Homo sapiens: one gene and its partners. The protein of the gene in region 1 interacts with the protein of each later gene in a pairwise test. Each region holds a gene or a part of one and is shown on either strand. Other genes may lie near its edges.

Region 1 (3,500 bases):
TACACAATTCGCTGGTTAGAAATAGCATGCCTGAATAGTACTATAATCATATCTATTCATGTAAAGAAAGTATTCCTGACTTTCTTCTCTTTAGGAGCTAGTATTATACTTAGAAGATTATCTCAGACATTTCTTTTCCTTCCTTTATTGAATGGCTTGCCTTGCCTTTGGCACTTCTTGTACTTACTCTGATGGATCCTCATATCTCGAAATGAGTTCTCTGTTTGTATTTTATTCTCTGACAGTAGCTCAGCAAAAAGTACAATGGTCAGGATTAAGGTGCTACTAGTGACATAAGTATTATGCCAAGAAGATATTGGGACCATATATTTCATTTCTCCATGTTATCCATTAGTCCCAGCAGCATGGGAGATCCAGAGTTGTGTTCATCTGAAAGGCACAGCATGTTCATTATAACAGCACGTGCTGTGTATTTCAATAACAATTTGAGAAACGGTGACACCTTTCACATCTATTCTCTAATCTTGTAGTGTGGCTGTATTATTCTTATTCTTGCTGTACAGATAGGCAAGCAGAGATGCTGACAGCTTAAGGGACCCAGTCACAATCTCACGCCAAGACCAGAAAGATAAGCAGAGCTTCTTGTTCCTAAGTCAAGCTCTCGACTTCATCCATACTGTTTATCATTCTAAAATATCTTATTCATCTCTCCTACTTAAAAGCCAGATTTGTATATGAGAAATTATTTGTTAAATTAATGAACTAATATTTGAGGCTTAGGAAATCCCACAGCACCTTCAAGAAATTAAGCAAATCTACTAATTCTAAAGGAGAGATGTGGAAAGATGTTATTGAACCACACAAAAAATAACTCTATTCTTTCCTATTTCACATCATACTGTATTTAAGCATAAGAGGAAATATCTTGGCCATAAATTATTATATTTAAAAACTTTGCCAGGCACAGGAAGAAAAATCCTGCATATTCTCTCTTAAATGTGGAATCTAAAACAATCGAACTCATAGAAACCCAGAGGAGAATGGTGGTTACCAGAGGCCTTGGGGTGGGGCAGGAGGGAGAGAATGGAGAGATGATGATGAAAGGTTTAAAGCCTCAGTTAGGCAGGAGAAATAAGTTGTTTTTTGGATATCTATTGCATAGAATAGCGAGTATAGTTAATAATAATGTATTACACACTTCAAAATCACTGAAAGAGTAAATTTCAAATTTCTCACGAGATAAAAATAAGTATTTGAAGTGATAGATATATTTAGCTTGATTTAATTATTCCACATTGTATTCATGAATCATAGTATCACTTTGTACCCCATAAATAAAATACAACTATAATTTGGATAACAACTCCAATATTGTTTAAAATACACACACACACACACACACACAGATAGAACAAATGAGATGAAAATATATATACATGTTAAGTGGTTATCTCTGAGTAGTGGGCTTATAGGCAAATTTGATTTTTCTTTATACATCTTTGAATCTTCCAAATTCACTATAATAAACACACCATAATATCTCCAAGTTTTATACTTGGAAAAATGTTTCTTCTTCATTACTTTTTAGCTTCTTTACTTAACCAATGTTGATACAAGCAGCTTCACATATCAGTTATCAAAAAAATACCTCAAATACATAAAAAAAAATTGTCAGCTTGATTTTTCTTTCTTATTTATTTATTTTTTTCCTTTTGGAGATGGAGTTTCGCTCTTTCACCCAGGCTGGAGTGCAGTGGTGTGATCTCAGCTCACTGCAACCTCTGCCTCCTGGGTTCAAGTGATTCTCCTGCCTCAGCCTCCCAAGTAGCTGGGACTACAGGCATGTGCCACCACACCCGGCTAATTTTTGTATTTTTAGTAGAGACGCGGTTTCACTGTGTTGGCCAAGCTGGTCTCGAACTCCTGACTTCAGGTGATGCATCTGCCTGGGCCTCCCAAAGTTGTAGGATTACAGGCACGAGCCACCATGCCAGGCCTGATTTTTAAGGTCTAGAAGATGAGCATATTATTCCTAGTCTTTTCTCTTGATAAGTATTAGGCAAATGTGTCAGAACTAAATAATGGTTGTCAGTACTTCATTGATGTGAGAGACAATCTACTAATCAATCTCTCTCTCTCCCCCCATACCCCTTCTCTCTCTTCTCTTCCCAGTAGAAATACCATTAGCCAGTTTACGAGGGGAACAAGGTCCCCGTGGAGAGCCTGGCCCAAGAGGACCACCTGGGCCCCCTGGTTTGCCAGGTCATGGGATACCTGGAATTAAAGGAAAACCAGGGCCACAGGGATATCCAGGAGTTGGAAAGCCAGGTATGCCTGGAATGCCAGGGAAGCCAGGAGCCATGGGCATGCCTGGGGCAAAAGGAGAAATTGGACAGAAAGGGGAAATTGGGCCTATGGGGATCCCAGGACCACAAGGACCTCCAGGGCCTCATGGACTTCCTGGCATTGGGAAGCCAGGTGGGCCAGGGTTACCAGGGCAACCAGGACCAAAGGGTGATCGAGGACCCAAAGGACTACCAGGACCTCAAGGCCTTCGGGGTCCTAAAGGAGACAAGGGCTTCGGGATGCCAGGTGCGCCAGGTGTAAAGGGGCCTCCAGGGATGCACGGCCCTCCCGGCCCTGTTGGACTGCCAGGAGTGGGCAAACCAGGAGTGACAGGCTTCCCTGGGCCCCAGGGCCCCCTGGGAAAGCCAGGGGCTCCAGGAGAACCTGGGCCACAAGGCCCTATTGGGGTACCGGGGGTTCAAGGACCTCCTGGGATACCCGGAATTGGAAAGCCAGGCCAGGATGGGATCCCAGGCCAGCCAGGATTTCCAGGTGGCAAAGGGGAGCAAGGACTGCCAGGGCTACCAGGACCCCCAGGCCTTCCAGGGATTGGGAAACCAGGCTTCCCAGGACCCAAAGGTGACCGGGGCATGGGAGGTGTTCCTGGGGCTCTTGGACCAAGAGGGGAGAAAGGACCAATAGGTGCCCCAGGAATAGGGGGTCCTCCAGGAGAGCCAGGCCTGCCTGGAATCCCAGGTCCTATGGGCCCTCCAGGTGCTATTGGTTTTCCTGGACCCAAAGGAGAAGGTGGGATTGTAGGGCCACAGGGGCCACCAGGTCCCAAGGGTGAGCCAGGGCTTCAAGGCTTCCCAGGAAAGCCAGGTTTCCTTGGTGAAGTAGGGCCTCCTGGCATGAGGGGTTTGCCAGGTCCCATAGGGCCCAAGGGGGAAGCTGGGCAAAAAGGTGTACCAGGACTCCCTGGTGTTCCAGGGCTTCTCGGACCTAAGGGAGAGCCAGGAATCCCAGGGGATCAGGGTTTACAGGGCCCCCCAGGTATCCCAGGGATTGGGGGCCCTAGTGGCCCCATTGGACCACCTGGGATTCCAGGCCCCAAAGGGGAGCCGGGCCTCCCAGGGCCCCCTGGGTTCCCTGGTATAGGGAAACCCGGAGTGGCAGGACTTCATGGCCCCCCAGGGAAGCCTGGTGCCCTTGGTCCTCAAGGCCAGCCTGGCCTTCCAGGACCCCCAGGCCCT
Region 2 (3,500 bases), on another chromosome or scaffold:
GCTGACTGACTGTATGGTTTAGTATCATGTCATAGTATTGAGACTGTAACTTTGGTCTTCTCATTTTCTTCTTTGTATTGTGCGTCCTAGACTTAGTTTGGCCTCTCCTTTTGTCCTTGTATACTCTAATACTGGATAAGAATTTTGGAGTCTTTTTCAACTCTGAGTCAGTGAATGCCACATAACTTAGTGACTATATTTAAATGGTTAATTTACAATTTTTTCCCTGCAAAGGATACTGTAGTCACTGTGAGTATTTTAGTATTACTGTAGGACTCAAGAGGGAATTAAAACTACAAAAATGACGCGTCTTGTATGACACAGAAAGAAATGTTTCTTCACAGAGGGAGGAGAAAAATATCTTCAAGAGAGAACTAATAGAATCAAATCAATGAACCATGTCTCATCTTTTTGGATAAGTAACTGTTAGTAATCCAGACACTTCATGAGCTTTCATTATGTAAAGTCTTTAGCAGAAGCTAAAGGAGGGGCACCAACCACAGTAATTTTAACTTAAGAACAAAATGGAGCATGAAAATAAATTATTAAATCATTTACTCCCACTATTTTTGGGTTAGGGCCAATAATGGGGAGAGAAAGAGGTAGACTAGTTTTGTGTTTGTGGCTATTTTAATAGAGTAGCACAAGTAATCAAAAAACAGTAGGCTGTTTTGAATTTACTGGCTGTCCCTTATGAGTTCACAGTTAGATTGGACTGTCCTCAATGTACTTTCTTTTTTTTCTTTCTTTCCCACATCTCTTTATTTCTCTGATTTTGTTTAAACTTCATAAAGAGCTCTCTGATCTTTCCTTTCCAAACAATGAAGGTTTATCCTTTGTAAACTACCTCTGTACTCCACAGGCTGATGATATGTGATATCCCTATATCATTAAAGTAAAGCCTAAGCACATTCTGTGGCTTTTGTGTCTACTCTGTTGTTGCTGAGCTTATGAACTATTAGAAATAACTCCCTCTTGCATTTTCACACATGGGGAATGTGATGTTCTCTTGGGTATTATGCTAATCATATTTTGGCAGGTTTCTCTGGAGCAGATGCAGAAATGATCATACCACTTTCCAGGGTGTATTATTTTAGCTCCTTTGACTTGGGCCCTAAGTCTGTTTTACCTGATGTTCCTGAAAGATGTTCCTGATGTCCTTCACTGTTCTTTCATGCTGGATGTTCTTGCCTATGCTGCCTCCTCAGCTATCACCCTCTCTTCCCCTTTTTAATGTAGAACTCATTCTTAATGATTTGTCAAAGGCACCCTATTTCACTGAAATGCCTTCTATATTCCCTACCCTCCAAGTGGATTGTAGACCTTCTAAGGTCTTTTGACATCTGCATATCTCTAGCACAGCACTTACCACGGTGATTATTTATCTGTTCATCTTTCCAAGTAGACACTCTCATTTTAACTCCCTACCCTAGTCGCCAGCATCCCCAGCATAGTGCCTGTCATAAAATGGTGCCACAATGAAAATTTGAAAAATGAATGAACGTGATAAACATAGATGAGAATCCTATATTCTACAATTTTTTAAATGTACTGAAATTATTCTTTTTGAATCCTCCTATTTATTTCTGTGACTTCTTTGGTGACAAAGTTAGAAAAAAGTGGAGGTCAGTAGGGAGATATGAAGGGACGCAAGTGGAAGCAGTGAGCCTGGGCGGGTGATGGAGTGGGAGATACGTGGCACAGGGGTCAGTGAGTTAATCTGGGCTCATTCAGAGAATGGAAGGTGTGTGCCAAGAAAACTGGTTGGATAGGGATAGGTCAGGGATTCCCTCTTGCATTCTCACACTTGGGGGCATGTGTCATTTTCTTTTCTTTTCTTTTTTTTTTTTTTTTTTTTTTTTGAGACGGAGCATCGCTCTTTCTCCCAGGCTGGAGTGCAATGGTGCTATCTCGGCTCACTGCAACCTCCACCTCCCGGGTTCAAGCTATTCTCATGTCTCAGCCTTCCAAGTAGCTGGGACTACAGGTGCCTGCCACCATGCTCAGCTAATTTTTGTATTTTTAGTAAAGATGGGGTTTCACCATGTTGGTCAGGTTGGCCTCGAACTCCTGATCTCAGGTGATCCACCTGCCTCGGCTTCTCAAAGTGCTGGGATTCCAGGCATGAGCCACCATGCCTGGCCGCATGTGTCATTTTCTTGGGTGTTATACTGATCGTATATTTGCAGGTTTGCTTTTGTGACAGACTTCTTCTGGGGGAAAAAAAGTATCCTTCTATCTTTTTACTTTTGTCCAGTTCCAGGTATCCCTGTTTTTTTCTTCACTCTTCCTTCCTTGTTCATGGGAGTTTTTCTTGAGGACTTCAAGCCCAGCTTCGGAGAATCCTGGTTGTGTCATCTCATCTCCTTTCTGCTCTCTTCTCTACCTAGCCTTTCCACCCTCACACCTCCCGGGGTCTGAAAATGGAAAGATAAGGGTGTTTCCCTGAAAGTTGCTCTTCTGTGTGGGGATGACAGGTTCTAAAGACTCTTTTCTGGTCCCTGCCCTCATTGCCATGATTAATCAGTTAAGTGGCCCGAGGTTTTGTAACAGCACAGTCTTAAAATGCTTCTCCCAAGTTTAATTTCTCTCCATTTGACCTTTTAAGGATGTGAATTGGCTTTAAGCAGTAGACTCCCTTTAGTACGGCGCTGTGAGCCTCTCAGTGAATCTGCTACATCCATTCCACCCACGGGTCTGGAAACTTGTCTGTTTACCTTTCCCTAAAAACCTAAGATATATTTTTAAGAAGTGCCTTGTAACTTTTCATATAGCCTTTCCCCTACTTTGGGTAGACTGTTTCTTACAGGAATTTGGTAGATCTTTCCAAAGAGAATTCTGTATCTCTATTTTTAAAGCATAAATCCTGTCAACTTTGGAGGAGAACTGATTTGGCTTGAGTTTTCTCAGACATGGGAACTTTTGACCTAAGTTTGTATTTTACATTGTTGAAAGGGAACTCCGGGATCCCAGAAAACATATGGACTGCAATTGGGTAAAGTTTCTGTTTCAGTACTTATTCCTACTTACTAGCCGTTTAATCTTGGTCAAGTCAGCCATGTGGCTCTCAACTTCCTCATCTGTAACATAAAAGGATTAGAGCAGACAATCTCTAACAAATGCTATAATACCACTGACAAATAATAATATTAGCTAATATGTGTAAGGCACTGTGTTTAGTGCTTTTTCCCTTAATACAATAGCTTTGAGATATAATTTATATACCATACAATTTACTTCTTAAAAAAGTACACAATTCAGTAATTTTAATAGATAGGAGTAACCATCACCACAGTCAATTCTAGAATATTTTTATACATCAGAAGAAACCCTTTACCCATTATCAATTACTCTCCATTCCTCCTAACTCCCTCCCAGCCCTAGGCAACTACTAGTCTACTTTCTGTCTTTATTTGCCTCTTCTGGACATTTCATACAAATGGAAACATGCAGCATGTAGTAATTTATGACAGCTTCTTTCACTTAGCATGAGGTTTTCA
Region 3 (3,500 bases), on another chromosome or scaffold:
AAGTAGAGGCAGGGAGAAGGGATACATGGCCCTTATCATGTCTGTGTTTTGGAGTAGGGGAAATGTAAGTGTCAGTTCTTCACAAATACAACAAGGGAGATGAAGATGCTGAGCCCTGGACAATCCTTTCTTTGCTGCAGATGAGGTTCCTGGAAATTCTTTACCATCCACTCTCCCTTCCACTAAATTTCAGAAAGAGTGCATCCAGGTCCCTAGCTGTGTGCTGAGTAACACTTGCACGTGGCCATTGCTGGACCATTCGGCAATAACGTCTCCTCTTGTCAGCTCTTCTAGCCCCTTCTCGCGCTTTCTGCTTTTCCTTTTGATGATGGGGAGGTGGCAAAACACAGTTCATTTCTCTCTTTGGCAAAGTGTGAATGGCATGGCTTGTGGCACCTTCTCTCTTGGTTTAGAGAACAGGCTTTGGAGTTAGAGTGGCTTTGCCTCTCCTTTAGCCTTACACGGTTGTTCTGAGGATTAGGTAGCTTGATACTTGTAAAACATATAGAACAAGGACTGGCACATAGCATGTACTTAGTTAATGTTAGCCATTATTATTACCTATTTTTGCAGATATAGAAGGCTGTCAAAGATATATTGCTAAAGGGACAAAAAGCAAGATACAAAACTATGTATTAAAACAGCTTGATTTTGTGCAAAGCAAATGTCTGAGGATATGTGGTGGTTACATCTGAGGAACAGGACTGGGGTTTAGGGGAGAAGGCTAGGCAAGTGGCTTTTACTTTATTATCTAATATTTTTGTAGTAATTGATTTTTTATTATAAAAAGTATACTTTTATAGTAATGAAATTACAAGGAATAGTTTAGAAAGTCCATACTTTCCATCATGTCATTTTTTTAAAAAGGCATGATGATTTCAACATAACCTCTTTTCATATTTTTTCATCCTTAAATTCGGAAGTATCATCCAAAAACTTCTCCTGGGGGTAAAGAAACATGTATCTAAAACCCAGCAATTCCCCAGATTTTCATTTCTTTGCTGTGCCATAGTCAAATAAAAGTTTTTAAAATTACATGCTATTTTAATTCCACAGTTACAAAATTATTCTAGTTATTCTTTCATCTCTCCATATACATATATAGAGTTGTCTGGAATGCTGTTCACCCACCAGATATAAACAACGCATTTGGCTTCATTGTTGCTGACTTCATTGCAAAGCATTGCTTAAATTTTTATAATAAGCATTTTTATAAAAACAATGAAATCATTGCTTAAAATTGGAGATGAGAAGTGTTAGTTCACTTTTCTGTTTAGAAGTAAACATGGCCGGGTGTGGTGGCTCACGCCTGTAATCCCAGCTCTTTGGGAGGCCGAGGCAGGTGGATCACGAGGTCAAAAGATGGAGACCATCACAGCCAACATGGTGAAACCCTGTCTCTACTAAAAATACAAAAATTAGCTGGGCATGGTGGCACACGCCTGTAGTCCCAGCTACTCAGGAGGCTGAGGCAGGAGAATCGCTTGAACCCGGGAGGCAGAGGTTGCAGTGAGATCTTGCCACTGCACTCCAGCCTGGCGACACAGCGAGACTCCATCTGAAAAAAAAAAAAAAAAAAAAAAAAAAAGGAGGAAACACAGTACCCAGCATCTAATCTTTCCCAGACATTTAGGATGCTGAACTTCTTCAGGATTATGAAGGTCAGTAGCTGTTGTGCAGTATCTGTTGCTCATGAAAGAGGTGAGAAGTAGACTATGTGGCTACCGAATCGGGATGACAAAAATATTTTAAATGATGACCGCATATTAACATACAGTCTACCATCCTTTCCTCTTGTTTTTTATTTATTTTTTTTCTTAGCAGGTAGAGGCTCTTTATGTTTAATTAAGGATTTTGATTAATTGAATTGGTATTTTTCAATAGTGTATGTAACTGGTTGAGAATCATTAATATTGTACAGTGTTAGAGCATAGTAGCTTTGATCGTCATTTAAATACAACTGTTTCCTTGCCCAGCAATTATACACCACTATCATGAATCAGATAAGAACACAAATCTGGAAAGAACTTGCAGTCCCCTGGTAAATACTTCATGAAGGCAATGGGAGCTTGCCAATTAGACAATCATCTCTGCATAAGATATATTTCCAACGAGTAACTGCATTATACAGTCCTTAGCACATTATGCCCCTCGGGATATGATGATAATTGACTGTGTCACAGAAGAAACAATTTTGAAGAAACTGGGACTAAGCTGATTATCAACTGAATCTTTAGAACGGGGTTAGCAAATGATGGCCCAAGGGCCAAATCTGGCCCGCTGCCTAATTTTGTCCAGTGTATGAGCTAAGAATGGTTTTCAAGTTTTAAGTGACTGGGGAAAAAAATCAAAAGTAGAATAACATTTCTGACATGTAAAAATTATATGAAATTCAGATTTCCTGTCCCTGAAGTTGTATCAGAACATAGCAGATTCATTCATTTATACATTGTCTGCAGCTGCTTTTGCACCACAGTATCAGAGTTGAGTAGTTGTGACACAGAAGATAAGAGAAGAAAATACTGACTATCTGACTCTTTATAGAAAAAGTTTGCTGACCCCTCCTTTAGACTCAGGTACAAGTTATTTGTGTGCATGTCTGCTTATGAATGGATAATGCTTTTGTGTTAGAAATACATCTGGCCAGTTGATGTGGCCATCAAAGGAGGTGCAATACTTCATATTCTTCTATTTTCCTCACTCCCTTCTCAAAGTCAAAAGAAAGCTATTGAGTGAGAAAAATTAAGAGTATTGGAAGGGACCATAAGAAAAATCATGGTAACAGAAAAGACCTACACATTACCTCCGAAGCTTGTAAATTACTAACTCTAATTTTAAGCCCTAAAATCAGATTAGCTCTCTACTTTTTAAAATTTGAAATTATTTATTCTCTGTGTCTGAGAAATATTTTGAGAGGCAAGAGCATTTGTTCTTGTGACTCTTACAAGATACAGTGGCTGGCCGGGCACGGTGGCTCACGCCTGTAATCCCAGCACTTTAGGAGGCCGAGGCAGATGGATCACGAGGTCAGGAGTTCAAGACCAGCCTGGCCAAGATGATGAAACCCCATCTCTACTAAAAATACAAAAATTAGCTGGGCATGGTGGCAGATGCCTGTAATCCCAGCTACTCAGAAGGCTGAGGCAGAGAATTGCTTGAAGCTGGGAGGCGGAGGTTGCAGTGAGCCGAGATCGCACCACTGCACTCCAGCCTGAGTGACAGAGCAAGACTCCATCTCAAAAAAAAAAAAAAAAAAAAAAATTAAATACAGTAGCACACCAGATGGAGTCTCTTTGTTCAGTGCTATCACCATATTGAATGGTGCTCTTTGGTGTATGCTTGCATTCAGTTGTAGATACGATATAATGCATGATTGGATAATAGGAAATACCTTTTAGTAGAATGTATGATTCTTGATAGGATATCCTGCCCATTGGCTTTGACAGTTGAATTAACCTATTTGGCTGACATTGACCCTCCTACTGACCACGATATATAAG
Region 4 (3,500 bases), on another chromosome or scaffold:
GCTAAGGCTCTGGGCATCTTCATGAGTAGGTGTAGCTACAGACCAACAGGCAGTGAAGAAAGTTCATAGCACTGAAACCAAAGATGGCATGCAGGTGACTGTGAGGAGTCTGTATCAAGAAGGTCAGAAGGTCTGGTTTGGAGTTCTGGTGCTGTGACCTTGGACAAGTTACTTATCTTCATTGACTATCCATTTTCTCACATTGTAAATAGTTAATAAGGTCACCTACATCATGAGATTATTCTAAGAACTGAACAAAATCAAGTATGTAAAAAACCTTATAAATGTTAAAAAGTTTTGCAAGTGGGCTGGGCACAGTGGCTCACACCTGTAATTCCAGCACTTTGGGAGGCTGAGGTGTGAGGACCATCTGAGGTCAGGAGTTTGAGAATAGCCCGGCCAACAAGGTGAAACCCTGGCTCTACTAAAAATACAAAAATTAGCCAGGGTGGTGGTGCACGCTTGTAATCCCAGCTACTCGGGAGGCTGAGGCATGAGAATTGCTTGAACCCGGGAGGCGGAGGTTGCAGTGAGCCGACGAGATTGTGCCACTACACTCCAGCCTGGGCAACAGAGTGAGATTCCATCTCAAAAAAAAAAGTTTTGCCAAGTGAAAACATCTTTTCTCTCTTCTTTGTGCTTATTGAGGAAAATACAATGCCCCATCCAAATCACAGCTTGATTTGAGAATAGTTTCTTGTGTTGGTTTTTTGAAGTGGAGGAGCAAAAAGTGCCAATGTAGCATAGCTAAAATTAACTCTGAGATATATTATTAAAAGCATTTGCAGCTTATTCAAGAAATGTGTTATGAATGTTAAAAACTGCAACACAATTCTCACTCACAGTGCAGCCCTCTGGGCATTATTAGATGACTCTTCATTCTCCCATATGGGAATTATGCACCTTCTAAATAATGGCAAATTTTTAAACGTGGGTGGGCTTTGCTCAGCTTTGCTCCTGAACTATTACACCACCCTAACACTATCATGTGGCATATGCTAAGAGAATGCAAAGTCATTTAAATGGTAGCATCATAAACATATAATGGAAATATAAGGTTCCCAGGAAAACAAAAATGAAGCAAAATGGAAGTTTCTAAAGCTAAACAGATGTATTTCTGAATTATTTGTTTCTACAGTTTAATTCACATTGTTGCTCCCTATCAAGTATGGAAAAATAAGTTTTAACCTAAGATATATTTAAGAAATCAGTAAAACCAGAGATTGACAAAGTACAGTTTGCAAGTCTAATTTGGACCACTGCCTGTTTTTGTTTGGCCTGTGAATAGTTTTTTACATTTTTAAATGATTAGAAAAAAAGAACAAAAGAAGGATATTTTCTGACATTTCAAAATTATATACAATTCAAATTTCAGTGTCCATAAATAGTCTTACTGGAACACAGCCATGCTCATTCATTTATAGATTGTCTATGGCTGATTTTCCACTACAACAACAGAGTCAAGTAGCTGTAATGAGACCACAAAGCCTGCAAAAATAATTACTCTCTGGCACTTTACAGAAAAAGTTTGCCAACTTCTGAGTAGAGAACATATGAAGGCTAATTCTATAAATACCATCCAATATGCTTATTAATAATGATCGGTTTCTGATAGGAAATCAACCTTATTAGTTTCCACAAAGAATATTAAACTTATAATCGTTCATTCACACAACAATTAGTAAATGCCTATTATGTGCCAGGCATTTTTCCAGTGCTAGAAAAATTCTTACACTCTTGGAGTTTACATTCTAATAGCGGAAGACGAAAACAAAATTACTAAGTAAAAGATGCACAATAGATGGAGTTAAGTGCTGTGAAAAAAAATTAAACAGGAAGGAATGGAGCTGGGGATGAGGGTGTGGGGTGAGCAAAGAGAAGTATCTCAGTTTAGAATAGGAAAATCAGAGAAGACCTTCACTGACAATACTTGAGTTGAGACCTAAATAAGGTGAGAGTAATCATGCAGGTATCTTAGGAAAACACATTCATGAGAAAGGGAACAGCAAATGCAAAGGCCATAACACAGAGAGCAGCCCTAGCGTGTTTGAGAAACAGCAAGAATATCTGGAGCAGCAGAAAATAGATGAGAGCTGTAACTGGGATGTGGATCAATTGGGGCCTTTAAGCCACTGTAAAGAAAGACTTAGGGTTTTCCTCTAAATGGGATAATACTTACATATGAGGTACAACAGACTTACTCTCCTAAAGCCCGTGTACAGAACCATATATTTGCTTTACGTGAAACTAGACCTACTGTATTAATAAAGTTTGATTTCTATTTAAAATGTTTTAGAGGGCTGGACATCAGCTTAGTTCTTTACTTTTACCTTAGAAGATATACAAGTCTCTTTTAACCCACACTTTCATGAGGTCCCATTTCCCTTTCCAAATTATTGTTTCACAGCTAACCTTCTATGACTGTAGCCTAATTTCAGATATTCCTCTTTCTTTTCCATCTACTTCTTACTTATCCCTCTGCAACAAAACTTTAATTCTAATTATTGTTTAGAAACTGTTTTCTAAAAACAATGACTTTCCTCTAGTCAAGTTCAGTGGTCTCATCTGAAACTTCATAAGGAAATTCTCTCTCCTATAGGGAGAATTGCTAACCACTCCATGTACCGTTTTAATCATTTTACCTTGGCTTCTATGCCTCCCTCTGTCTAACTCAAAACCCAGTGAAGTCTTAGTCTGGATTGCTGATTTCTCCTTCTTCCCCATCTATTATGGCCACCCTAATGTTTAAGTCTGGACTGCACTGCTCTTTCTCTCAAATGCATTTGTTACTGTTGTTGTTCACTTGGTTTTAAACAACTTCCTTCCTGTAACTGACTCCAAAATACACTGTTCCAGTCCCATATGTTCAGTTTTCTAGAAGTCATCTCTCTATCCTAATATGTGCTGCCACTATTTGAAACTAAACATTTGTAAAAGGAGATCATCTTCCCAAGAAACTTTAATTATTCAATTTTTCTAAGGCTTCCACACACAATTTAAAGTAACTTCATCTCTTTAAGTTGTATATAATTTATTACCACATTCTGACAAGACTTGTTAACTGAATTCCTATAATACTTATCATTCGTGTTCACAGTTTCCTTTTTGATACAAATTCTGATCATCTTAAAAGCCTCAGGCCAGACATCATCTTGTTGCTGGCTTTTCCCCCATTTCCAGCCATCCTTGGAATAACAGAACCTTCAGATTCAAGAAATTTAATTTCTATCCAATTAAGTAATCATTTCTAAAATATTTCTAAAAGATGATCACCAGCCTCTGCTTGAATACAAGCATGTAGCATGGTGCCGGATAAATCTTGAGAATTTAATAAATGCTTGGAGTTATTATTGTTCTGCTCTTAAGAGTACAGACTCTGGAACCAGACCACCTGGATTTCAATCCCAACTCCACCATTTACTCAATGTGTAGTCTTGGGCAAGGTACTAAACTTCCCTGTCGTAAAAGAGATGTAATAACAGTGCCTACTTCATAGGATT
Region 5 (3,500 bases), on another chromosome or scaffold:
TTTATATTTCTTTTTATAATGTTTTAATGTATTCTTAAATTTCAAGCAAATTTAAGATAAAACTTGTAATGGCTATGCCATTGAAAAACTTAATTTTTTATTTTTGAGGCCCATGGGCCAAGGTAACCCCTAAGGGGTTTTCTTAGGCTTCTTGGAGCTTAGATTTGTATGTATATCAAAATGTCTTTAAAATGTTAAGTTGGGCAGAAGGCAGTTGAAGTGAGCTTTCAAGGTATGGGAGGTTTTCTACATTTTATACTATTTCAATCTATGCCTTTAAAGTTGCTTATGATTTTAGCTGTACACTCATTTTTTAAGGGGAAGAAGTTTCCTTGGACCATTCGCCTTTCTTAGATGTCCTCACTCCCTGTGATCTCATAAAACTGCCTATTTGACATCTCTATCTAGAAATCTAATTAAAGCTCACACTCAGCATATCCAAAACTGAATTCTTGGTCTTCCCTCCCAAACTTGCTTCTCCTTCAGTCTTCTCCAACTCAGTAAATGGCAATGCCATACTTCTGGTTGCTCAGGCCAAAAACCCTGAAGTCATCCTTGATTCTTCTTTTAGCACCCATATCCAATCCATTAGCAAATCTGGTAGACCCTACCTTCACAATATATCTAAAGCTGACCACCTCTTTTGACCTCTACTATTAACGCCCTATTCCAAGCCACCATCATCTCTTCCCTGGATTGAAGCTGTCATCTACAAAAATTCTTCTTATATCCTTGCATTCCTACAGTCTGTTCCCCATAAAGTAGCCAGAATGATTATTTTTAAAACAAGTCAACTCATACCATTCATCTGCTCAAAACCATTCATTGGCTTCTCATCTCACTCAGAGCAGTCAAAGTCCTTAAAAGTTGCAGGCCTAGACTCCCTGTCCTACCTCAGGTACCACCATATCCCACCTCCTCATGCAGCTCCAGGCACCTTGGCCTCAGTGCTCCTCAAAGCATCAAGTATGCACTTGCCTTGGACAGTCTGTACTTGGTATTCCCTCTGCCTTGAATGTTGTTCTCCCAGAAAAATGCATAGTTCACTCTTACATCCTTCAGGTGTCACTCCACTGTTACCTGAGCAGGTCGTCCTTGAATATATACATCAGCATTCCCTTTCCCCCCTGCTTTATGTATGTCCATAGCACTCACCACGATCTGACTTTACTAAGTATTTATTCATTTACTGTTTGTTTTCCCATACCGAAATATAAACTTTCTAAGGACAGAAATTTTTGTGCTTTATTGTTGAATCTCCAATTTGTAGAAAAATGCCTACCTTATATTAAACACTCAGTAAATGTTTATTGAACATTAAAAGTATTACTAATAGAACTTTGGTTTTTGAAAGAAATAATAACTTTAATTATAAGACGTATATGATTTTTGCAGTTTTACTTAGTGTGACATTGGGTTTATGAGAATCGTGTACATTCAAGTCCAGGAATAATAATGGTCATCCAAATTGTTTGAAAGGAAAATAATCCCAGTGGCAAAATGATGGTAGAATTTGGGTAATCTTTTTTTTCCTTTTATGAAAAGAGATTTTATTGAAGGTAAAACATTAGAGGTTCATTGAGAATCTCTAAATCCATGTTTTGACATTGTCAAGCTCATTGCAACTTCCAGATTGAGTAACACTTATAACACATTTCCTTTTCAAAGTGCAAGATTTTTAAAAGAGACTTGTCACATATTCATTTGGCTGGTTTCAAATGGTGAGCTGAATGCTGGGTAATCTCTACTAGCTCCTTAATCAGATTTAAAATTCTCAGTGTTTCCTAGTTGTTTCTGCATACTTTATGTGAGTTGTTATAGCTGTAACATTACACTTTATTTGCTGTTTGTGTTTCGTGACTTTTGGTAATTCTGGCATTTAGAAACCTTTCACTTTGCTTCAAAACGTAGTTATATTTTGGAGTTTTCATTTGATATATAATTATTTATTTTGCCCTTTTATTTCCCAAAGACATTGTAAGGGTTAATTAGATCATTATATTTTATTATTACAGATTAAAGTTGGGCAGTAATCTTAATTATGATGGAATTATCATTATGCTAAGTAATTAACTTTACCTAGTTTGTTTTACAACTAGAACCTGCCCTAAATGTTGAATATCTTCCTAGCAAGAAACAGTCTGTCATTTTACTTACACGATGTCTAACCAAACCATAACTTTACATAAACTAGTCGTTTCGGTCAAATAGAAAAATGTGTGAATGCCATAAAAACAAAAATTCTCAGTTAAATGATACTGGGAAATAGGGAAGACAGCAAAGTGAGACTTGGGCTCAGGATGGTTCAGGAAGAAAAAAAAAGAAAGACCCCTGAGTACCATTAATATTCCTCAGAAATTATTATTTCAAAAGGAAATATTTCTGTATTATAAATTTTTCATGAGCAGCCATTATGAAATCTCACAAGAATCATAGAATTCAATAAAAAAGGTAGAAAGTAATTTTTTTACTTAAAAATATAAATTAAAATAAATTTTTAAAATCATAAGCACATAAATAGAACTTACCAGGGAGAAAGAAAAACCTGAAGGCACAATTTCTTTTCTGTTCAAAATGTGAACCCAGGATGTCTCTAGATGATGATGGATGATAGGTGGGGAGATTTTTTTTTTTTTTAATACAGAATCTCATAGTTTTGGATTAATTAGCACCAATCAGTTTAAACACTGACTGTTAGAATAGCTGCATGGGTTTTTTTCTTTAAACTAATTAAGCGTTGGCTACTTAGTATAAGTAAGTATAAGCCGAATTAAGGTTCTGCTACATCTGTGTTTAGAATATTTTTTTAAAACTAAATAAGTGTTGGCTAGTTTTGCGGTGTAAGCAGAATTAAGGTTCTGCTACCTCTGTGTGTAGAATATTCCCAATGGATTTTTCATTTTTCAGGTGCTATTTTTTGACCCTGTATAGACTTTAATTTAAAATGAATTTGGTAACGTTTCTCCTCTGTCTCTACATATATTCATGCTTTCACCTGCTCTTTTAACACCTGCTTTTAGTATCTGAGGCACTTTTTCTGAACTCTACTTGTGCACTGGATCCCTCCTCCTTTCTCTGCCAGGCTGTGTTTACTTTATCCTTACATCACCACTTAGTGATTCCTTTCTTTGTATAAACATGGTAAATGTCTTCATTAGCCTAAAAGGAAAGACCAAATAAAACCTTTCCTACCACTTGGATGCATTTGCATCCTGACTTCTGAAATGCCTCCAGCCTCCATTTTCTCCCTTCCCAGTTATTCCTTAGCCCAGCCATCTCTGTCTTTAGCTCCTACAATTTTCTTAGGATATTCTGGGAAAGATGAGCGGAGACTGCCCGCCTTGTCAAATCTAGTGTCTTTTTTTCAGTCCTCACACTGCTTGACCTATGTATAACCTCCTATACTTCCCTCTTTGCATACTCCTCTGGGTTTTCTGTGGTAGTCAAGATTCCTCCCTGAGATTTATTTCCCATGAGTCTTGACCCCTCCCCTCAGTTGG
Region 6 (2,982 bases), on another chromosome or scaffold:
TAACAGATAGCCACAGACTTAATCACAGGCCTTCATCTCTTAGCCACAATTTCAGCACCCCTCTCTCCCCTGCCCGGAATTTTTTTCCCCTGAATTCGAGTTTGGAGACCAGGAGTGCACAGGGTTTGGTGAATGAACATCAGTAGGAGTTCCTGGGACAACCTTGTTCAGTGTTTGAAGAAGTTTTGCCTGTGGAGTGACACCCAGCTGTGACTTAAAAGATGAACTGCTGGCTGGGCGTGGTTGCTCACGTCTGTAATCCCAGCACTTTGGGAGGCCGAGAGGCAGGTGGATCACAAGGTCAGGAGTTAGAGACCAGCCTGGCCAAGATGGTGAAACCCCGTCTCTACTAAAAATACAAAAATTATCCAGGCGCGGTGGCAGGTGCCTGTAATCCCAGCTACTAGGGAGGCTGAGGCAGGAGAATTGCTTGAACCCGGGAGGCAGAGGTTGCAGTGAGCCAAGATCACACCACTGCACTCCAGCCTGGGCGACAGAGCAAGACTCCTCACCCACCCACCCCGCCCCGCCAAAAAAAAAGATGAACTGCCAAAAAGTGGGGCGAGCTTTGCAAAGGCCTTGTTACATAGGAAATGATTCTCATGTTTTTTGTTTGTTTGTTTTGAAATGGAGTTTTGCCCTTGTTGTCTGAGCTGGAGTGCAATGGCACGATCTTGGCTCACTGCAACCTCCGCCTCCCGGGTTCAAAAGATTCTCCTGCCTCAGCCTCCTGAGTAGCTGGGATTATAGGCGCCTGCCACCACACCCGGCTAATTTTTGTATTTTTAGTAGAGACGGGGTTTCACCACGTTGGCCAGCCTGGTCTCGAACTCCTGACCTCAGGTGATCCACCCACCTTAACCTCCCAAAGTGTTGGGATTACAGGCGTGAGCCACTGCGCCCAGCCCGATTATCATGTTTTCACTGGAGCAGGTCCCAAGCGGACTTCTGCTTAATGGTCAAGCCTGCATTCATCCATGTGGCAGAGGCAACTCTGTGTCTAGGGCTGACAGAAAGATGCAACAAGGGGGAGATGGCCCCTGCCCTCAGACGGCACATGGGTCAGTGAGGAGCTAGGATAAGTCTAAAAGTCTAGACTATGCCTGGTGTGGTGGCTTACACCTGTAATCCCAGAACTTTGGGAGGCCGAGGTAGGCGGATCACGAGGTCAGGAGATCAAGACCATCGTGGCTAACACGGTGAAGCCCCATCTCTACTAAAGATACAAAAAATTAGCTGGGAGTGGTGGCACGCGCCTGTAGTCCAAGCTACTTGGGAGGCTGAGGCAGGAGAATGGCTTGAACCTGGGAGGTGGAGCTTGCAGTGAGCCGAGATCGCGCCACTGTGCCAAAAAAAAAAAAAGTCTAGACTAAACTCTTCTGTGTGGGAGACAGCCCTCCACCCCAGCTCCTAGGGCTTCTATTTCATAAGCTCCAAGTTAATGATGGTTATTTCTTTCTTTCTTTTTTTTTTTTTTTGAGATGGAGTCTCACTCTGTTGCCCAGGCTGGAGTGCAATGGCATGGTCTCAGCTCACTGCAACCTCCACCTCCCAGGTTCAAGCAATTCTCCTGCCTCAGCCTCCCAAGTAGCTGGGATTACAGTCGCTTGCCACCACACCTGGCTAATTTTTGTATTTTTAGTAGAGATAGGGTTTCAGTGTTGTTGGCCCAGCTGGTCTTGAACTCCTAACCTCATGAGCCACCTGCCTTGGCCTCCCAAAGTGCTGGGATTACAGGCGTGAGCCACGGCACCTGGCCTAATGCTGGTTATTTCATTGTACACAAATATATTGAGTATTGAGTGCTTTCCCTGAATGGGGCTCTCTGCCAGGGAGGTAGGCTCTAACATGAGTGACATGCTCTGTGATTAGCAGACACGGATGGCTGATTCTTTTGCTGCCATTAAACTGAGTCTCAGAAAAGCTTGCTGGAAACATGGTTGTACTCTAGGGAAAACCAAGATCACATACTTCATTCCAGCCTCCAGGGATTGGACAGCAGGGTGGATGGGGGAGTCACAGGAGCAAGGCCTGTTCCCAGCCTTCAGGGGTTCCCCATGTATGGCTGTCAGTGCTAAGAAGGGCTCTCCTCCTCCCACCTAGGTAACGTGAAGCACCTGGTTCTCTTCCTCCATGAGGCTGTCCTGGTGCAGTATGTGGACACGCTCAAGCTCGCAGTGCCCTCTCTCATCTACACCTTGCAGAATAACCTCCAGTATGTTGCCATCTCTAACCTACCAGCTGCCACTTTCCAGGTGAGCCCCAAGCCCAGCATGGCCCCAGAGGAACTAACTGGGTTGGGGACTGGAGTATGGGAATAGCGTGGTGGGGGGGTGTTGCAGAGGACAGGGGCTATGTCACCTTCAGAATGTCCTTGGAACTCCTTCAACCTCCCTTTTCTCGTCTGTGAAAATTGGGGGTGGAAATAGTAATGCCTGTTCACTGAGATGCTAGGATACTTAAAAGAAATAATACCTGTGAAGAGCCCTTGATTGGTGACAGATAAGCTTTAGGCTATTTGTGGGCAGCTTTGTGAAATGGTTAAAGAGCCTGGATTCTGGGGCCAGGCTGTCTGGGTTCAAATCTCAGCTCTGCTACCTTCCAGCTGTGTGATTTTGGGGCACGTCACCTAACCTCTCTGTGCCTTAGTTTTCTCACCTTTAAATTGGGGCTTACAGTGGTGCTCACTTCAGAATGGTGTTGTGAGAATTAAATGAATGAATTCACGTGCAGTGCCTAGAACCACACTGATATATTGTAAGCACTATGTAAGTATTTGCTGACATTGTTGTGGCTATTGATTCATTTGTATCAAGTCCCTCATCACAAAGATACTTCCATACCTCAGCCATCTTTTATAGATGATGATGCCAGGGCTCAGACAGGGCAAGTGCTTTGTCCCCAGTCACACAGCCAGGAAATGGGATTGGGATGTGGACTTCTTGGCACAGCCATCCTTTTGTGCACTTGCTGGGAGAGACT
Region 7 (3,500 bases), about 86 Mb from region 1:
TGTCCCCCTCCCCAGTAGCACTGGCAAATGCATCCTGATGCCTTGCTGTCCCTAACACCCCACCAACTCCCCCAGTCATGTCCATTCTCCCCGCAATCTGTCTCCACTCCCTCCCCACGGTCTCTACCCCTTCCTTCCATCTCTAGGCCCTGTCCCCACTCCAGTCTCAGCTCTGATCTCCACTGGAACAGCCCCGCCACCTCCCTGCCCACCACTCCTCCCCTTTCCCAGGGAACCCAGTCTGGCCTGAGAGCAGCTGGCCCCGACATGCCACGGCCCCACAGCCCGCCCCAGTTTCCCATGGCCAGAAAGGAAAGGTCTGGATTCCCAGCTGAGCCTGGCACTCAAGGCCCTGCAGGAGCCATCCCAACCCGACCCTCCCACAGGCCCTTAGGCCTGAACTCCCCCAAGGGCTCTTCTCCCCTCTCATCTTGCACAAGCCACTCAAATGCCACCTTCTCACCAGTCCTCATGCCTCCTCCCTCCTCCACCCTGGCCCAAGTCCCCAGTGCCTGTAGCCCCACTTGTGACCCAGTGGCCGTACCTGACTCTTATAGACAGCGTGCTCCCCAAAGTCACAGGCAAGAGCTCCTTCTCCGACTCCCAGCCTAAAGCGCAGCCCCATAGGGCAGTGACAGAGGGACAGCAGGACTCGTTACCACAGCAGTGGTCCCCAAGCCTGCCCCATTTCTAAAGGAACGCCTCCTCTGCACCCAGCCCCTCTAGGAACCAGGGGTTTATCAGCCAGCAAGACAGGTTCCCAGCGTCCTCACAGCACTGACACCCTCAGGGGTGGAGGGGCAGATAATAAACCCAAGAGCAAATCTGTAGAGAACTGAACGCCAGGCAGGCATGAGCCCCATGATGAAATAAATGAAGGGAATCAAGGAGACGGAAGGAGGACGTGGCAGTGTCAGGGGAGCCCGTGTCAGTCCGGCGGAAGAGGAGGGCTTCTCTGAGGAGGGCGTCAGGCAGGGAGTGGCAGGGCCAAGGGGCTGAGGCCGGACCAGCAGCAGAAAGGTGAAGGACAGAGAGGGCCCCCAGGGCTGAGCCACATCAGCACACGGGTGGTAACTGCAGAGCAACGGGCTTCCAGCCTGCTGTGAGGGCCTCTGGGCGTGCCTGTAAGCGCTGGAGCCTGGGACTCTCCAGTGCAAGGGACCCACCCAGCTGCCCACTGCGCTGAGACACGGGAGCCAGCAGGGAGCAGGTGAGAGAGCCCAGGGCAGTGAGCGAAGAGAGGCAGGAGATGGTGGCACAGGGGATCTATTTTGAAGGTAGGACCCACAGGATTTGCTGATGGATAGGATGCAGCGGACAGAAGACAGAAGTCCAGGAGCGCCTGGAAGGGGGAGTTGTGTGACCGAGGCAGGGAAGGCTGCGGTGGAGGGCCATGGACGGGCAGGGAGATGGAAGCCCATGCCCAGACCAGGCTCAGGGCCGGCGGAGTGCTAGGGAGCCTCTGGGGCCTCGAGGGCTGACGCCCCTGCCCTCACACTGAGGTGCCACCTCAGGAAGCTGGAGGACTCCGTAAAGCCACTGACATTAGGAATGGGCCCCTGGGAGAATCAGGGCCTTTACTCCCAGTCAGCAAAAGCAAGGACCCTCCAGACTGCAAGGGAGAGGCCCTCAGGTCCACTCTCAACAGTTCTTTCTGTTTGTTTTTAGAGACAGGGTCTCACTCTGTTGTCCAGGCTAGAGCACAGTTGTGTGATCATAGCTCATCGCAGCCTCAACCTCCCGAGCTCAAGCGATCTTCCCACCTCAGCCTTCTGAGTAGGTGGAACTACAGGCACACACCACTACACCCAGCTAATTTTTTTTAACAAGGGTCTCACTGTGTTGCCCAGATTGGTCTTGAACTCTTGACCTCAAGCGACCCTCCTGCCTCAGCCTCCTACAGTGCTGGGATTACAGGCATGAGCCACCGTGCCAGCTGACAGTGTCTTTTAAGAAAGGAAATCTTTGGCCAGGCGAGGTGGCTCACGCCTGTAATCCCAGCACTTTGGGAGGCCAAGACAGGCGGATCACTTGAGGTCAGGAGTTCGAGACCAGCCTGGCCAACGTGGTGAAACCCTGTCTCTACCAGAAATACAAAAATTAGCCAGGCATGATGGCGTGTGCCTGTAATCCCAGCAACTCAGGAGGATGAGGCAGGAGAACTGCTTGAACCCCGGAGGCGGAGGTTGGAGTGAGCCGAGATCGTGCCACTGCACTCCATCCTGGGGAACAGAGGGAGACCCCGTCTCAAAACAAAAGGAAATCTTTGGTGAACTGAGACCCAAGCTCCCTGCCCTCCTGCCTTCAGGTGCATCACACACCTAGGCATGAACGTTGTGTCCTGAGAGGACAGTACCCCAGCCACAGGACACAGGGCTGTCCTAGAACTTCTTCCAGAAGAACTTCCTTCCCAGCCCACCCTGCCCCACCACCCGGTCCACCAAGTCCATCCCCTTGCTCTGCTCACCGGCACAGCCCCCAGGGTGACCTGGCCCCTTGGCCCCCCAGGCCCCCAGCATCACATTCTGTCCATGCTTAAGCAATCCCAAACCTCAGGCTTGCCCATCTCCCCACTCCAGGCCCAGGGCAATGATAAAGAACATCAGGCCCAAGCCTGACTCTGCATTTTCCACATTTGCTGCGCAACCCCAGGCACGGCCCTGGCCCTCTCTGAGCCCTGGTTCTGCATCCACCCAGTGAACGTGTTCCACCATACCTCAGGTCATAGTCGGGGGCCCACCAGCATTATCTGGCCCATAAGTGCTTTCGTTTGGCTCACACAGTGGGTTTCTCATTTTAAATTGGTTACCAGCATGCATAAATTGAAAACGTTCACATAAAAATTCAGGTTTCCAACTCCTGTTTCAAGCCACAGAGCTCTGGCCACCCTGAGATGTCACATGGGGTGTGAGCTCCCAGGTTCCCCAAGTCGTCTGGGCCCCCCCAAATGCATGCAGCTCAGAGTATCCTGGTGCTGTCTGATGGTTGTATGTCCACTCAGGAGGGGAAAGGACCATCTGGGATGTGTCGAGAGGGAGTGGCCCACGTGGTGAGGGGGCCCAGGCCCCTTGGGGTGGCTCACCTGGGAGAATAGCAGACCTCACTGTCCTCACATCTCCACAGCTGCTCCCAATGGGGCGTGTATGTGTGGGGCGGGAGGTGGGGGCATGGAGGAGATGGCAGATGTCAGCTCCAAGTGGAGAACACTCCCTCCAGGGCAGGGACTGACCAGGCTGCTGGGAAGGAGTGAGCTCCCTATCTATCGCCAGAGATAAGCAAGCAGGGCTGGGGACACTCGTACAAGAGAGAAGCAGGAGGGCACAGTCTCTACACTGCAGGGTCACAGAATCAAACATGCCCCTCCTGGGAGCTCCAGCTGAGTTTTCCCACAACCCCGGCTTCTGCAGACAGCTCCCACCCCTCAGCAACCTGAAAAAAGAAGCCCCTGGAGATGGGGTGGGGAAGGAGGCCTGACCTCCCTGCGGGGGGACAGTCCCAGC

The links.
Region 2: the proteins of COL8A1 (region 1) and NOTCH2NLC interact in binary tests that used the Homo sapiens proteins (3 or more experiments, as listed by UniProt).
Region 3: the proteins of COL8A1 (region 1) and CREB5 interact in binary tests that used the Homo sapiens proteins (3 or more experiments, as listed by UniProt).
Region 4: the proteins of COL8A1 (region 1) and NOTCH2NLA interact in binary tests that used the Homo sapiens proteins (3 or more experiments, as listed by UniProt).
Region 5: the proteins of COL8A1 (region 1) and REL interact in binary tests that used the Homo sapiens proteins (3 or more experiments, as listed by UniProt).
Region 6: the proteins of COL8A1 (region 1) and SLC35A2 interact in binary tests that used the Homo sapiens proteins (3 or more experiments, as listed by UniProt).
Region 7: the proteins of COL8A1 (region 1) and FBLN2 interact in binary tests that used the Homo sapiens proteins (3 or more experiments, as listed by UniProt).

The regions. Positions count from the first base shown.
Region 1 is NC_000003.12:99,792,094-99,795,593, forward strand, and holds part of COL8A1 (collagen alpha-1(VIII) chain precursor), read left to right. Parts: intron 1-2,136; coding exon 2,137-3,500. UniProt on the Homo sapiens protein: Macromolecular component of the subendothelium. Major component of the Descemet's membrane (basement membrane) of corneal endothelial cells. Also a component of the endothelia of blood vessels.
Region 2 is NC_000001.11:149,467,121-149,470,620, forward strand, and holds part of NOTCH2NLC (notch homolog 2 N-terminal-like protein C), read left to right. Parts: 3' UTR 1-3,500. UniProt on the Homo sapiens protein: Human-specific protein that promotes neural progenitor proliferation and evolutionary expansion of the brain neocortex by regulating the Notch signaling pathway.
Region 3 is NC_000007.14:28,800,518-28,804,017, forward strand, and holds part of CREB5 (cyclic AMP-responsive element-binding protein 5), read left to right. Parts: intron 1-3,500. UniProt on the Homo sapiens protein: Binds to the cAMP response element and activates transcription.
Region 4 is NC_000001.11:146,166,522-146,170,021, forward strand, and holds part of NOTCH2NLA (notch homolog 2 N-terminal-like protein A), read right to left. Parts: intron 1-3,500.
Region 5 is NC_000002.12:60,923,074-60,926,573, forward strand, and holds part of REL (proto-oncogene c-Rel), read left to right. Parts: 3' UTR 1-3,500. UniProt on the Homo sapiens protein: Proto-oncogene that may play a role in differentiation and lymphopoiesis.
Region 6 is NC_000023.11:48,905,665-48,908,646, reverse strand, and holds part of SLC35A2 (UDP-galactose translocator), read left to right. Parts: intron 1-2,103; coding exon 2,104-2,255; intron 2,256-2,982. UniProt on the Homo sapiens protein: Transports uridine diphosphate galactose (UDP-galactose) from the cytosol into the Golgi apparatus, functioning as an antiporter that exchanges UDP-galactose for UMP.
Region 7 is NC_000003.12:13,566,125-13,569,624, reverse strand, and holds part of FBLN2 (fibulin-2 isoform a precursor), read right to left. Parts: intron 886-3,500; exon of another isoform or gene 545-885; intron 1-544. UniProt on the Homo sapiens protein: Its binding to fibronectin and some other ligands is calcium dependent. May act as an adapter that mediates the interaction between FBN1 and ELN.